Linked DNA regions of Homo sapiens: region 2 is linked to region 1. A link means that fine-mapping ties the variant in region 1 to the expression of a gene that starts in the linked region. Tissue or cell type: spinal cord. Region 1 holds a variant in brackets; the other region holds the start of a gene. All regions are shown on one strand. Distances are from middle to middle.

Evidence for each region. PIP is the estimated chance that this variant, and not a neighbour inherited with it, causes the effect.
Region 2: CKAP4 starts here. The variant in region 1 is fine-mapped to the expression of CKAP4 in spinal cord (GTEx, PIP 0.96).

Annotation. Positions count from the first base shown.
Region 1 is chr12:106,300,836-106,308,939 of GRCh38, reverse strand. It overlaps TCP11L2 (t-complex 11 like 2), which reads right to left and starts at 6,207. Exons shown (of 10, transcript NM_152772.3): 1 at 5,999-6,207. RefSeq lists enhancers at 6,140-6,279, 6,290-6,369, 5,544-6,429 and a silencer at 6,450-6,569. The variant T/C (reference allele first, on the strand shown) is at 4,916.
Region 2 is chr12:106,243,856-106,251,959 of GRCh38, reverse strand. It overlaps CKAP4 (cytoskeleton associated protein 4), which reads left to right and starts at 3,940. Exons shown (of 2, transcript NM_006825.4): 1 at 3,940-4,591. The coding sequence starts at 4,109. It overlaps LOC124903008 (a long non-coding RNA gene), which reads right to left and starts at 3,688. Exons shown (of 2, transcript XR_007063443.1): 1 at 3,201-3,688; 2 at 1-2,289. RefSeq lists silencers at 3,365-3,704, 3,735-4,044, 4,705-4,794.

The DNA of each region.
Region 1 (8,104 bases):
CTGAATCTCCTTAATAAAGCAGAGTTTGTGTCTTGTCCATGACCAGCGCCAAGTATATGACAAGTATTCATTCAGTGTCAGCTAAATCAGAATCCCTGAATCTCATTTGGTACAGCTTCAACCAGAACATTTGCAACCTGATATCATGACACGTTAACCAGGCTGGTACTGCCAAAGCCCAAGCCTTAGAGCAGAGAATCTACTGCTTAAGCCTATCTTATTAGATTTAAACCTCAAGATTCTCAGGTCCTTGTCATGCTCTTATTTGAATATCTTAAAGTTTGTTTCCACTTTAAGTCATTTTTCCCCCAGTTATTCCCCTGTAATGTAACCGCTGTGCTATGCATGCTCTGCTCTTAATTTTTCTCTACTTCGGTTGCCCTCAAATGAGCTCTGGCTGTTTTTCCAAGTGAAATTGAATAAGAGCTTCCAGCCATGAGAATTTATGAACTAGCTTAATAGTTTTAACTGTCCATTTCATTTTTCTACTTTAGCTGGATAGCACACTTGGTAGGTTTCTTAACTGTGTTTAACAAGGCAGAAAAGTGCAAAGATTAAAATAATTGGGAGTCAGGAGTCCAGGGTTTGTGGCCTGGGTTCATCATTAATGTGCCGTGTGACTTTATGCACATTTTTCTGAGAGGTTGGGCCAGTCATAAGGTTTCTCTCAGCAAGGAATATATGATGCTCCAAACCCAGAGTTCCATGAGGCATCACTAGAAGTTCTGAGAAATTAAATGTGCTTATGGCAGTCATGCTTAACAATGTGAAACTACACTTTCTTCCAGCAATTCACTGGAGGTAGAGTTCCTGGCACAGGGGCTGCAATGGAAAATTTAAAAGCTTCAAAATGTTTAGAAACTCTTGTTTAGTGGGTAGAAGCCTCCACATTACAACTGGGCCTTAGTGTATCCAAACAGAAACCTGTATTTGAAGCCAAAATGCCCATTATTACTCTATTAAAAATTTGTCTGTTTCCTCATATAGGCTTACTAAGAATACCTAATTCATAGGGTTGGTGTGAGATTTCAGGTACCCAATACATGCAGCGTGTTTGGAACAGTCATTGACACAGTAAACAGTATACAAATGTTTTCTATTATTTGCTTTTTTTTGTTAATATCATTGCCTCAGGAATTAAACACTCTGGAGGGAAGAACAGTTTTATGTCAGGATAACACCATATTCTTCAACAGACAAACAAGGCTGGTAGTTAACATAGAACAGAACTCTTGGCACTTGTTTGACAGACAAAAACCAAAAGCGAATGGCCCATCACTGTGTGAATGGTCTTCCGCAAGTTCCTTCATACCTGCTCTTACCTTTCTCGGTCTTGAGTTTCCAAGTAAGTCACCTGGGGACAAACCTACTTGATTCAAAAGGCACTGAGGATATTTAGATTGCTTTAAAAACTATTTTGGATTATCCTTTAGACTGATGATAATGAAACCAGGCTGTATCTTTAAGAAAGGTAATACTCCTTATGCAAACTTAGATCTACCTAACCTTTGCCACTGCAACTCACAAGTAAATCAAACAACTTTTCAGAAACATCACATCTCATCATACCTGGAGGATTTAATCACTGGTCAAAGGTAAAGTCAACAGAAAAGACTGAAGATGACTCCAAGCAAAGCCTCCAACACGATAGCAGGTCACTATTCAAAGAAAAGTACTGTCATATTCACATTTTTGATTGTATTATTCCATCACTTTGTGATAATAAATATAATGTCATTTCTTCTGAGACCATCACTGGAATGCAGCAAGCATTCAAATATTTATTCAAATATTTATTGTTGAATAAATGAATGGTAGTAAGACTACTGACATTTAAGAGGTGTGAATGGGTACAAGGACTTGAAGGGGCTAGTGCTGTATTTCACTACAGATAGAGAGGAGATTGGTTTTTAATTTGCTTGTGATTCCTCAGCTCGTGTGCAGCTTTACTTCCTGATTTCCTTTCTGCAGCAACTCTATCTGCAAATAGTTCTGCACTGGTTCAGAATTGCAAAGATACACTGATGATAATACATGTCACTGAAGCCATAAGAACATTGCCTCTGGAGCTAGGTGGACTGGGTTCTTGATCCCGGCTCCTCTTGATTATTTACTGACTAGAAACAGAGAACTCGCCATTTGTAAAATGGGACAATAATAGTATCCACCTTGTAGAAGTGTTGTGAAGATTAACTGAAATAGTATCTGTCAAGTACTTAAGCTCCTAGTAAGTGCCTGACGGATGTCAACTATTATTTTATTCTTATTAAAAGAAGTTACAAGTTCCGAAAATGTAATGTCATAAAAAACAAAGAAAGGTTGAGAATATGTTCCAAATGAAAAAAAAACACTTGATAACTGAGTGCAATAGGTGATCCTAGAGTGGATCCTATACTGAAGCAAAAATGCTGTAAAGGACAGTATCAGTCAATCAATAGCACTGTTAACAATATTTGAATCTACTGTCTGTTATCCAATGTTAAATATACTGAAGTTGAAATGTACTGTGGTTTTGTATTTAGGAATAAAGGGCCATGACATATACAACTTTTTCTCAAATGATTCAAATGCAAGAGAGAAAAAATAATAAAGCACATAGAGCAAAATGTTAATAGGTGAATCTGAGAAAAAGGTAGACAACATGGTATTCCTTATACTATTCTCACGACTTTATCTGTAAGTTTGAAAGTATTTCCAAATAGAAGGTTAAAAGAGAAGATGACAGGCTGAACTGAAACTTCAAGATTCAAATTCAGAACAGTCCAACCTCTTGCAGTTTTGAAATTCTGATTGTGCCCACTGCTGTGATAGCTTAAATACCACTCTATTACAAGAACTCTTCTAGACAGTCAAACTTGTCCTGATGTCCTTCTTGAACAGTGCCTAAAGAATAAAACAGGAAATAGGCCAGAGCCCTCCAGAAAAGGCAAAATAGATAATCCTTTTTAAGAGTTCATCCCTAGGTGGGTTCCCTTTTCCTAAGTCACTGGGCCATGGTTTACAACCCTCTGTGATCTTAACTCTGCCCACCTTATTCTGCAGTGTTCTCCCACTAACCCTTCATGATCTTCTTTGCGTTCCTCAGACATGCCAAACTTCCTATTTCGGGGCACTCATACCTGCTGTTCTCTGCCCCTGAAATGTTCCTCTCCCTGATCTCCTTGTGGTTGGCTCCCTATTGTCATTCAGATTTGAAATTTAATGTCACCAACTACGAGGTAACCTTCCCTGATTGCTACACTCACTGCATCTAATGAGCCAGCTAGAGCTTAGAACACCGCTAGGGCTAGAGCAGGAGCTCAGTGAGTACAGCTGCATGAACTAATTACGCCACACTCCTATTCATAAGACACCTTGAGTTTTCCTTCTTTTCTGCCTCACTCACATTACTCATATTCCCATTACGCAGTCACTTACAGTACTACACTTGTGTGCATATCTGTCTCCCACTAGATTTTAAGCTGCTGGTGGAAGCGATGACTCTCCTCTCCAATTCCCAGTGCCTACTTCAGTGCATTTGCAAGGCACCAAAAATTCAAACTAGCAAAGACCCACAGTTCCAGGAGGTTAAAGAAACTCACGTGTAGCAAATAACAACAATTACAGCTAACAGTAATTGAGTGCTTATTATTGAGGTAGTAATAAGCACTCAATAACTGTTCTATGATAAGTTCTTTATATATTTTATCTCCTTGAATCCTTATTATAACCTTGTTAGCTAATGTATCAGTATTATCCCCATTTTATAATAAGATCCTGAGGCCCAGAGAGGTTGCGTTACTTGCCCAAGGGTTCACAGCAGTGTAGAGGCACAACTCAAATCCAGGAAGCGGATCCCTAAAACCCATGCTCTCTACCACTCCAGTTTGGCTGGAGAAAATTTGGTGTGCTGCTCATTCTTTCCACTCCCACTCTGCCAAATCCATCTACCCATCACCCTGTGGACACTTGCACATGTGGTAGCAAGCTGATCTTATCCTGGTATGGCTGCTCAAGTGCTATTCTGTGAAGGGCATCACTGAAGGAGTACGTCACCCAAAACAATTCTTCACCACCCCGCTACAGTGACAGAAAATCCTCTAGGAGGGAGCCATTCTTTATGCACCGCAAAATCCCTAGTTAGACCCCACGTATTAGCAAAAAGGTTAACTGCTTACAGTCATAAACATTTTGGAGTGAAATATTCAGATTACCCAGCAGGGCCTTGAGGAATTGAACCCATCCAGTTAAGGTTAGCTCACGCAAAAAAGAAATTTCAAGAAACTTCTAGTGTGTACCATCCTTCAACACTAGATCGAGGTCAGCTGCAAGGACAAGCCTTCACATATGTGTAGTAAAGGGAAGGGAGTCAGAGGACTAAGTCTGGGCTCTAAAGAAAAAAATTGCAGATGATGTGAAAAATTTCCATCTTCTGCAAAATGCTGCTTTAGAATCAGTCTTAAATAGCAGCACTAAAGTTATTCATCCACAGCAAAGCAAAAACCATAGAGCAGAGGGATAGGGGCCCATACCATTCATCTAGACAATACTGGTCTTCATCAAGTTAGAACCAACAAAGAGCTAGATAAAAGCCAACAAGCCAGTCACTGTCCACAAAGCAGATGTTCACGTTACACGTGGCATTACAGCATCAGGGAGAAGGATTCCTGGCACTTTTCACATTTGAAAGCACTCCTCCCACACTTGCTGGTCTGTTTTGTTTTAATACCTGTGCTTCCCCCTCTGGGGCCCTCAACCTCTCACAAAATGGCATTGAAGCTGCTTCCACACATGACTGGGTATCTTCGGCCCTGGGCCTCTTCAAATCAGGCAACTTCCACTGGCTGTCAGGGTGATGCATGAAATCCCTAGAGAAGAGAGGAAAAGGACCACGGCAGGGAGCCTCCTCAAGTGGGAACCACTGAGATTAACTCAT[T/C]ATCCGTTGGCAGGTAAGAAGAGCAAAGTCCCTGACTGGGCTGGTGACCATGGGTGCTGAGACACCCACTGGGGACAAGGACAACTTGTCCAGTTTCTTCACAGTTAAGGTAGCAGGACAACCATCTAAGATTTCCCAAACTTAAGTCGTTTGAGTGCCACTCTTCATGACTATTTCTACGTCTCCCTCCTTACCTTTACTATAATTTAGTAACCGCGTCTCTATCTTGACTAGATTTTTGCATTTAAATATATTTATTTTAAAAGGAAACTCTATCATTGTGAAACTGCTTACTTAATGGAACAGATTTTCTTAATAGTAACGAAAACAAGTAACTATGTTCATCCATATGCCACCTCAAATCATTGCTATTACCCCCAGTGGTGCCACCTACAGTAGCAGCTTTGGGAAGCACAAGCAACACCTGAGGGTTCAGCGTTCGAGCCCAGGCCCAATCGGCTTTTCTCCACCTCTTCCCCTTAACCAAAGGTCCCGGCAAGGGGACGCAGCAGCAGTCTGCACGACCTCACCCACGTCCTCTGGCCGCCCCTCCCCTCCAGCAGCACCAGGTTTCCTGTCAAAACAAACCCTTGGGGGAGGGGACGGCGGAGGCAGAGCTGAGTGCCGGGGAAACCACGGCAACAAATCCCAAACACACGCTGCCGGGCCCGCCCTGCCTCTACCCTGGCTCAGTTCCCTACTCCAGCCCGGCCGAGGAGTGTGGGGGAAGGGGGTGCCCTGGGCCCCTGATGGCGGGATGCCGCTGGTACCTGTCCAGCAGGATTTAAACAGCGGCGAAGCGGCCTCCGAGGCCCGAAGTCCGTGTCCACCCCGACACGCGGGGCGGCCACTCGGTGCCCCGCTCCCCGCTCCCACGCGGGACGGCAGTTCGAGGTCAAACAAGGGGACGCGGAGTGGGAAGACATGAACTAGGAGCCGAGCTTGATGGCCCCTGACCCCGCCTTCCCAGGATGGAGTTCCGAGATAGGGCAGGGGAGCCTTCGGGCTGCAGCGGTGTCCCCTCCGTTGGACCTGGCCGGTCACCTCCGAGCCGGCAACGCCTCCCCCGTGATGGATACGCACCGGGTCCAGCACGTAGACAAGAGGAGAACGGCGACGGAGTGACCCCGGGTCAGGGCTCTCTGGGCGTCCCCTCACCGAGCACAGCACAGTCACCTCGAAAACTCACCAGCCCAACAAACCCCCCCAGCCCCAGTGTCCCCCCCAACGCGGTATTTAAAGGGCCCTGAGGGACTCTAGGGAGGCAGCCACGGCGCGGCCATCACAAAACCGGATAGCGGGGGGACGACGGCGCGACGGGGCAAGGGGATCCAGGGCCCTTCAGTCTCCGAAAGCCGAGCGCTCACAGACTGAACCTATTAGAGAAACAGTCTTCGTCAGTTTGAACCAGAGAGGCCGAGAACAGCTCGGATGGGAGGGTGTTTCGGATGCGAGAGGGCACGGTTCCCCCGCGCGGCGAGTGGTGCGGTCCGGGCTGCCGGGGGCGGGGTGAGAAGTGTTTACGGAACTGAGGCCGCCGAGCCGACGGGAGCGCCCGGCGTTGGGGGCGGGGCCTGCCAGGGCACTGGGGGCGGGGCCGAGTGGGGGAGCGGGGGCTGAGCGGGGGCTGAGCGGGGGCTGAGCGGGGGCTGAGCGGGGGCTGAGCGGGGGCTGAGCGGGGGCTGAGCGGGGGCTGAGCGGGGGGAGCGGGGGCTGAGCGGGGCTCTGGGGAGGTGGGCGAAGCCGCGGGCCAAGCCTCCAGTGGAGTGCCGGACAGATCCCCTGGGCTTCCAGGCGCACTGGCGTGGACCACACTGCGAGCTCCCGGCCGCGCGTGGAACATTGAGTGCCCGCACACCCCTGTCTAGACGGGGCAATCGGAACTGGGTGCCCACCAACACACTGTCCACACTTACAGAGACAACCCAACCAACAACGCTGCTGGTGGGCTTTCCCACGCACGTCAGCCACTAACCGGGTCATCTCCAGTTGCGTCTACACCTCCACATAAACACGGGTCTAGATTTGCACCTGCACGGGACGATTAGCTCCTTGGAGTCACACCCATCCAGGCCCTCTGAAGACTTGGCGTGCGTGCAAAAGATAAAGCGTCTTACTTCCTCTAGGGTTCTTGGCAGCACCTATCTCCGGGAGAAGTTTCCACCTTGGTTAATGTAAATAACCAGTCCCAGGAGGGCTCTGTGCCGTCTGGCCTGCTGCTCAGCTCCTGCTGTGGGCGTGCTTGAGGGTGTAGAGAAACAAGCTTCCCCCAACTGTTCACATCAAAACTATGCCTTCTGCCAGGTGTAAATCGGTGCTGTATTACTTGGGAAATAGTTTCATGCAGGAACTACTTACATGAAGTTTGTATAGACTAAAGTATTTCTGTTTAGTGCCGAAATTATGTCTGGATTGTGGAGGCAGATTGGCCACCACCGTTCAAAAACAACAACAACAAACAACAGGCAACATTTTAAAGCAGGGTAGAAAGTCAGTTGTTCAGTGGTTACAACACAGACTCCTCTATGGTTCCAGTCCTGGCTCTGACATTCACTATCCATGAGATCTTGGTCTCTGGGGATAACAATGATAGCTATTTCCTTGGGTTATTTTGAGGATAAAGTGAAATAAAGCATGTGAAGTGCTTAGCAGGGTGCACAGTAAGCACTCTAAGTATTAGTTATTGAAATTCTTTGGCAAACCACTGTGGCCAAACTTAGCTGGTGATCTGTATAAATTTGTATCTGTGCCTCCTTTTGCCACTTTCCTCTCTTCTCCTAAAATATACAACCTAATAATACAGGTTAAGAGATTAAATAGAAGGTGCTGTCCCCACCTGAGTTCTTCCCTACAAACATGCTCTTATTTGTGTCATTCGTTGGATAAGTAATCAGAATGACAGAAGCCTCCAATTTCAATTCCTGCCAAATGACAACCACCACACAACTGCCATCACCACCCTAAAAACTCCACAATAGAAAGATGAACACCCAAATCCCCCAAACTTCTGGTAATTCTGTGACAATGACACATGGCAACATTACTTCCTTTGTTAGCTTTGTAAGGATTTAAGTATTGTTTTGAGCTATGACATAAGTTGGAGCAGGTGACCATGAGTCAGGGTAGTTGTCCTTTATACTGGAGTGACCAGCTGCCTGATCCTAGGCATGACACTTCTTTTAAAGTTCA
Region 2 (8,104 bases), 57 kb after region 1:
ATGAGATGTCTCCAGCTCCCCCTCTTCTCCGCCCACATTCCTGACCATCCAACACACTTTAGCAAGGAAAAGGGATAGAGGAAACAAAACTAGGAGGAAAAGCAGAAGAGAAACTCCTCTAGATTCATGCTGTGCTCAGAAACTGGGGTAGGAGAATGGAAGTCTCCAGGAAGAGCTGTTGATCCCTTCCTGCTCTGGAAGATGCACTTCTATGACTGCCCACCAGCCTCCTCCTCTGGGTGTAACCGAACACCATGGTGGAGCCACACTTCAGAGAAACACACTGCTTGCTTTTAACGTTAAACACATCCTAGCCTGTGGTTTGTGAGCCACATATGGTCCTGGGAGCCCCACGAAATAATGATGAAAGAAAATCGTTGAAATCTGGACACAGAAGCTCTCTGAAGCTATACTTTTCCTCAGTGACTCTGCAAATTGTATTAGCTGTCCAATATTCACTGAGCATTGCCATATGCCCAGTATCATATGGTGTCTCTTGTCTAATCCGCATAACAGCAAGGTTGTTCTTTTTTTTTGGGTGGAGTGCAATGGTGAACAGGGCTCACTGCAGCCTTGACTTTCCAGGCCCAAGTGATCCTCTCACCTCAGCTCCCCAAGTAGCTGGGACTACAGTCACACTCCACCATGCCTGGATAATTTTTTTTTGTATTTTTTGTAGGGACAGGGTTTTGCCTTGTTGCCCAGGCTTGTTTTGAACTCTTGGGCTCAAGCAGTCCATCTGCCTCGGCCTCCCCAAGTACTGGGATTATAGGTGTGAGCCACCACACCTGGCCTAGTGAGGTAGCAATTACTCCTGTCTTATAGCTGAAGATACTGAGGTTCAGAGAGGTCACACTCCAAAGTCAGTCATGGAGCTGAATTTGAACCCAAGTCAGTCTATTCTATAGCCTGTGTCTTAACCATTGTATGTACTATCTCCCAGAGGAAAAGAATGAGAGGGAAATGCTGAAAATATTAACAGTCCCATCGTCCTACTCTCTATTCATTCATTCAGTGCTCAGTAGAGGTAAAAATTGAGAAACCGTCCATTCTCATATCTGGCCTACAGTCTGCTTTTTTTTTTTTCCTGAGACAGGGTCTTGCTCTGTTGCCCAGGCTGGAGTACAGTGGTGCCATCATAGCTCACTATAACCTTGAACTCCCAGGCTCAAGCGATCCTCCTGTCTCAGCCTCCTGAGTGCCACCACATCCAGCTAAATTTTTTTTGGTGGAGTCAGGGTCTTGCTGTTATCTAGGCTGGTCTTGAACTCCTGGCCTCAAGTGATCTTCCTGCCTTGGCCTCCCATAGCGTTGGGATTACAGGTGTGAGGCACTGTACTTGGCCTGGATCAATTTTTAAAAATTTAAATATCATTTAATTATTTTTGATAAGGATCAGATGACTATTTCTCTAAGAAACGGATTAATAATAAGACAGGTCCTTAAAGATGCACCTTACAGAAAGGGTGACCCTGAAATCTAGAGGAGTTTAGGGATACTTCTCAAGGTCACACACTTTGGTAGCACTAAAGGAGTAGGGCTCTTGCTTTCAAGGCCAGATCTTGGCAGCAAGCTGCTTTACCAGTTATCACTGCCTCTGCCCCTAACATGGAGAACTGCTTGAAGGGGGATAACCTCTTTTTGCGCGCTAGAGATTTTAACAACACAACCCGAACTCAGCTGAATAGTTTTTAAACAAGGTTCCTGTGATGAGTGTCTTCTGATTTCTTCTGCTGTCTCCCCGCGCCACAGGTCAGAGACCTGTGCCCTGTTGAACCTAGAGGCTCCTACAATAGCTCCTGGTATTTAGCTGAAGTAGGGTGTTCCTCTCTGTCTGGGGCAGATGGTTGTATTTCTAGTCCAGAACCTGCTATAATTTACTCTGTCCTCCCACACTAATAGCGATTCTTCTATCTGCCAGCTTGGCTTCTATAGCCTTCTGCAATCTGGACCCGCTCCACCCAGTTCATCTCTTTCTTCTCTACATGTAGAACACACCCTCATGGCCAACAGGTGTCCTGGGCTCACCCCATTTCCGCCACAGAAATATCCTCCCTGCTCTCCTCATATGCAAATCATTCTTCAAGGCACTGCTCAAGGTCTTTCTGCCCCCAAAGCCTGCCCATGTACAGGCCAATGGTTTGCTTTCCAAATCTCTTTACATTTATGTTCCCAATTTACCTAAGTTAGCCCTCAACAGGTTTCTGTATATATCTCCAAGTGTAGTGCAGGCTCCTTGAGGGCAGGCACACAAGTGTTCATTCATTCACTGGAGGCTTTTAGCAACACCTTATAAAGCGAGAAAGAAGGAGAAATATAAACTATGGTTGCTTCCAGTCCTCAGGGAGGGGAGACATACCTGGCACACAGTGGGCCCTCAACAAAGGTTTGCTATATTGAACTAACATATATGCCTCTCGTTGCAATTACTTGCTAAGTCCCATGAGAGGTATCAAATGGTGTTATAGGGAAAGCATCATCAAAGAGGTGGCATTTGAACCCTATAGGCTTTAAGGGCAGGGCATGGTTTTGTCTTTGTTTACAGAACTGGGAGGAGGTTACAGACAGAAGAAACAGCATTCCTACTACACACAGTGCCAGGTGCACACAGTGCCAGGCACACATCACTCACCAGAAACTGGGGAAAGCAGTGGAATTGAGTGAGTTCTGTCCCTGCCCCGGCACCAATTAGACTGAGTGAGTGGGCAAGTTGCTTAACTTCCCTGGGCCCCCGTTTCCTTCCCATTCTGAAGTGATTAAGCTGCACAGACTTCAGAAAGAAGCAGACTGAGTGAGGTTCGAATGATGACTATATGTGACCTTGAGCCAATCCGAAGCCGGCTCGCTCAGTCTCAATTTCCTTCCTATAAAATGGGTAAAATAATTTCTACCTCACAGGGCTTTTGTGAGATTTCGAGAACATATGTGAGTCGCTAACCACACAGCCTGGCAATACCAGATTTCCTTTTACAAAAGTAGGGGTGACAACGCTGATCTGCCTCTTTCTGTGTGGCTGCTGCTGCCTCCGCAGCACCCATCCCAGAGGCTGTCAGGAGTAGGGGCCGTGGACAAACTTCATGACCCCGAAAGAGAAAACAGAGCTGAAGGGGCTTCGGGGGGAAAAAGTAAAGAGCTGGCCACAGCAGGCTAACTTGGCTAACGGGGACACTTGGTGAATGCGTCCCCTTGAACAGACTTACCACAGTCGAGAATCTTTGCTAACTCGCATCAACCATGCCTCCCAAGCTGGCTGGATTTTGGACAGCCTTTTTTGTCTCCGCCTTCAAACCCAAGGCAAAGGACAAGGCCCAACCCCATGGCGGGCTGGGAGAGTGAAAGCAGGGGGAGTCCCCCAATTCCCAGCGGAAAGGAAGGGCGATCTGTTCCCACCCGCTGACTCCCACTCCCGGGGCCAGGGCTCCTTGGGCGCCCCCCTTCATTTCTCTCCTCTCCGCACAGGTCGGGAAGGGAGGGGGTCGCGCTTGGCCCGCGGCGCAGGTTCACCCCGGCTTTCGTCCCTCCGACCCCGCCTGGCCGCCCATCCCCGACCCCCGTGGACCCTGCTCGGCCGCCCCGGCTGGGGTCGATCTGGCCCTCCGCCCCCAGCCTGCGTGGAACCCGCCGGGCCGCCAGCCCCACCTCGGCCGCGTCCCCTCCCCTCCGCTCCGCTCTTCTCCCCTCCCCTCGCGGCCACCTCGGTGCCCACCCCGGCCTCCGCAGACCCCGCCGGGACCCCGCCCCGCGCCCAGCCACCCCCGCGCCGGCTTCCCGGCCCCCGTAGACCCCGCCCGGCCCTCCCTCTCCGGGGTCGTGGCGGCGGGGAGGAGGGGCCGCCGGGCCGGCGTGCGTGGCAAGCTCTCCCGGCTCGGCTCGCTCGGCCTCCCTTACCGGGAGGCGGGGTCGGCGCCGCGGCGGCGGAGGCAGGCCCCCTCCTCCCGCCTCCTCGGCCCGGCCTCCTTCCCCGGCCGCGCGTCCTCTCGCCGCTCCGACGCCAGCAGCGCCCGCGTGCCGCTCGCCCAGTCCCGGGGGAGCCCCTGCAAGTTTCCCGGGCCGCGCGCCGCGCTCGCTCGCCTCCCAGCCCGCGGCCCGAGCCGCCGCCGCGCCCGCCATGCCCTCGGCCAAACAAAGGGGCTCCAAGGGCGGCCACGGCGCCGCGAGCCCCTCGGAGAAGGGTGCCCACCCGTCGGGCGGCGCGGATGACGTGGCGAAGAAGCCGCCGCCGGCGCCGCAGCAGCCGCCGCCGCCGCCCGCGCCGCACCCGCAGCAGCACCCGCAGCAGCACCCGCAGAACCAGGCGCACGGCAAGGGCGGCCACCGCGGCGGCGGCGGCGGCGGCGGCAAGTCCTCCTCCTCCTCCTCCGCCTCCGCCGCCGCTGCCGCCGCCGCCGCCTCGTCCTCGGCGTCCTGCTCGCGCAGGCTCGGCAGGGCGCTCAACTTTCTCTTCTACCTCGCCCTGGTGGCGGCGGCCGCTTTCTCGGGCTGGTGCGTCCACCACGTCCTGGAGGAGGTCCAGCAGGTCCGGCGCAGCCACCAGGACTTCTCCCGGCAGAGGGAGGAGCTGGGCCAGGGCTTGCAGGGCGTCGAGCAGAAGGTGGGTACCCCCGGCCCCGCAACTGTCCCCATCGACTGCGGCCTCCGGACCCACGGCCGGGCTCCTTCGTGCTTCCCGACCGGCCCCTAGCGCTGCCTGCCCAGGCCCGGAGGCGGGAGCCGGCCGCTCCTCCTTGGCGGGCCCTGGCCTAGACATCCCACTCCACGCGGCCCCCTAGTTCCGAGGCAGTCCCCAGACCCCCTTTGTTAATGGCTGCGGAGGAATCGGCCCCGAGGGATGGGCCGCCGCGAGGATGCCCAGGCCCGCCTGGCAGGGTGGGCCAAGGGCCTGTCACAGGGCATTAGCGGTGACCTGTAAGGAAGCCGGCAGGCTCCGGGGAGCCCATTCTTTCTGCATTAGGAACCGCTGAATGGGCAGAGCTGTCTGAAAAGGAGGTTGGAAGGGAAGCCAGCGCATCCCTGGAAGCCTCAGGCAAGGCCCCACCTCAGCTCTGCCTGTGGGAGACATCCGAGCGGGGTTTTTAATAGACCCGGAGCTGGCATTCTTACTCATTTGCAGGTCCAAATGAAATACCATCTATCTTTAGGTCCCTTGTCCTGTATTGGACCAGCCTGCCCAGGTGGGCCTTTGACGTAGTCCTACTTCAGCTTTTTTGGGTTTTCTTTTGAGAGGGAGTCTGGCTCTGTCGCCCAGGCTGGAGTGCAGTGGTACGATCTCAGCTCACTGCAACCTCTGCCTCCCAGGTTCCAGCGATTCTCCTGCCTCAGCCTCCTGAGTAGCTGGGATTACAGACATGTGCCACCATACCCAGCTAATTTTTTATTAGTAGTAGAGACAAAGTTTCACCGTATTGGCCAGGCTGGTCTCGAACTTCTGACCTCAAGTGATCCGCCTGCCTCGGCCTCCCAAAGTGCTGGGATTACAGGCGTGAGCCACTGCGCCCGGCCCTACTTCCGCTTTAGGGGAAGAGGAGGGCCAAAAATACTAGATCATACTGGTGAATAATACTTCTAGCCACATTTATATGGTGTTTAGAATGCTTACTCACTCACATATTATCTAATTCTTATAACTACCCTGGGAGGGAGGACTAACAGTTTTGATTTCATTTCCCAGAGCAGAACATTGAGGTTTAGACAGAGGAATGAGTTGACAAAGTCCCCAGCTGGTGAGTGACAGACACACGAGAATGTCTAGGCCACTGCCCTGTTCGTCAAGGGTCCACAGGGGTCCATTTCAGGTATGGATGGACCCAACTCTCAAGGCGAAGGTGCTTAGCTTCCACCCTTCTGTGGTTTTTCCATACCAAGTACAGCCCCTTTGATCTTATTCGCCCTCCACTATGTCATTGCTCAATGAAAGTTGGTTGCAAGACTGAAACAAAAAATCCCGCCACTTCTGATCCCGGAGCCACTGCCTCCTTTTCCCAGCATGCTGTCTGTCCTGCCAAGTTGCTCTCTGCTTTTGTTGAGTGTGCAGGACCAGGAATTTCCTCTTAAGACTGGCAGAGCACGGCCGGGCGTGGTGGCTCACGCCTGTAATCCCGGCACTGTAGGAGGCCGAGGCGGGCGGATCACCTGAGGTCAGAAGTTTGAGAGCAGCCTGGCCAACATGGTGAAACCCTGTGTCTACTAAAAATACAAAAATTAGCGGGGTGTGGTGGCACATGCCTGTAGTCCCAGCTACTCAGGAGGTTGAGGCAGGAGAATTGCTTGAACCCGGGAGGTGGAGGTTGCAGTGAGCGGAAATCCTGCCAGTGCACCCCAGCCGGGGCAACAGAGTGAGACTCCGTCTCAAAAAAAAAAAAAAAAAAAAAAAAGACTGGCAGAGCAACTGGAATGAGTCAGCCTGCTAAACGCTGCAGGCCAAGGGAGGTGACTTTTCTAAGGGAATTAAGTAGGCAGTGCTGCTTTGCCTATCCTGAATGTCAAACCATTCTTAAAAAATAGACATACTGCTGGAGTATAATGACTAGCCTCTGTTTCTTCTCTTTCATCCTCCTACTTACTAGTCAATCATAATATTTATTAAAGTCTGACAGTTGCATGGCTCTGTGTAGGCTTTGTGGGAGGGTATGAAGGAGCAAAAGACACGAATCACTTGTGCAGCGCATAAGGAGGTGTCAGTTGAGGGTAACTCCTGTGAAAGTTCAGAAGAGGGAGGGTGTGGAATTTCGCCTGTATCCCGGTGGCCAGGGTAGTGCCAGCCATCTAGCTGGTGATCGATAAATGTTGAGAGAAGGACTGTGATGAACACCGTGGCAGGGGCACTATTTTGAGCATGTTTGAGAGAGAGGAGGTGGCTACCCTGCCAATGGCAGAGTCACATGTAGGAAATTGTGAGAGAGGGTGGGTTGGAAGTTGAGGCCAAAATAGGGAAGGTCTTGAATCCAGGTTAATTCTCTGTGCTTCTCCCTGCCCCTCACTTAGTCCCTTCTTTTTGCTTCTCACCCCTTCTCCATCACAGCTATGTATATAGATCACTTTCTTCTTTGGGGCTCAGTTTTCCCACCCACACAATGAGAAGAGGGCTCCATCCAGACTTTTAAGAATCCTCATGGCTCTAAAATAATTGAAATAGTGACTTCTCTGTTTTTTATTTCATATTTTATATTTCGTAGAGACAGGGTCTCACTCTGTCACCAGGCTGGAGCGTAGTGGTGTGATCATAGCTCACTGCAGCCTTGAACTCCTGGCCTCAAGTGTTCCTCTTGCCTCAGCCTCACAAGTAGCTGGGACCACAGGCATGCACAAGCACGTCCAGCTATTTATTTATTTTTAAAATTTTTGGTAGAGACAGGGTCTTGCTGTGTTGCTCAGGCTGGTCTCAAACTCCTGGGCTCAAGCAGTCCTCCTGCCTTGGCCTCTCAAAGTGCTGGGATTACAGATGTGAGCCACTGCGCCTGGCTGACCACTTTTCTTTTAATTTAGTAGTGTAATCAAACTATAATTTAATGTGTCATATTTATGGTGCACTTATTACGTGCCAGGCACTATGCAAAGCATTTGAAAATGCATCATCTGCTGACTCTCACAACAACCCCAAGAGGTAAGTACTATTATCAGCCCTCTTTGACAGATGAGAAAAGTGAGAGGCTAAGTAACTGAGCGGTGATATAGCTAGTTAGTGGCTGGGCTAGGATCCAAACTGTTGTCTAACTCCTGGAACACTATTAACCACTCCACTATTTAGCCTAGTACATAGTAGGTGCCCAATAAATGTTCCATTGACTTGAGACTCAGAACATGGCCAGAACAGTGTTAGATTTGCCATAGAATGTGGCCACTCTGTCTGTATCTTTGGGGTGGCCAGTAAATAAATTATTTTGCATTGAGGAACCAGTTGTGTTTGGTTCTCTGACAGCCTAAGTTTGAACCCTTTTATAACTCTTGGTTACTTGTTGGGGGGTGGAGTTTGGTTCATAGCAGGGAAGTATACTTACAGTATTCATAATTACTGTTCACTATGGGTCAGCCATGCTATTAAATGCTTTATAGCCATGATTTCTGTTCTCCCAGCCACCCTCTGAGGCAGGTATCATTTAGTAGTACC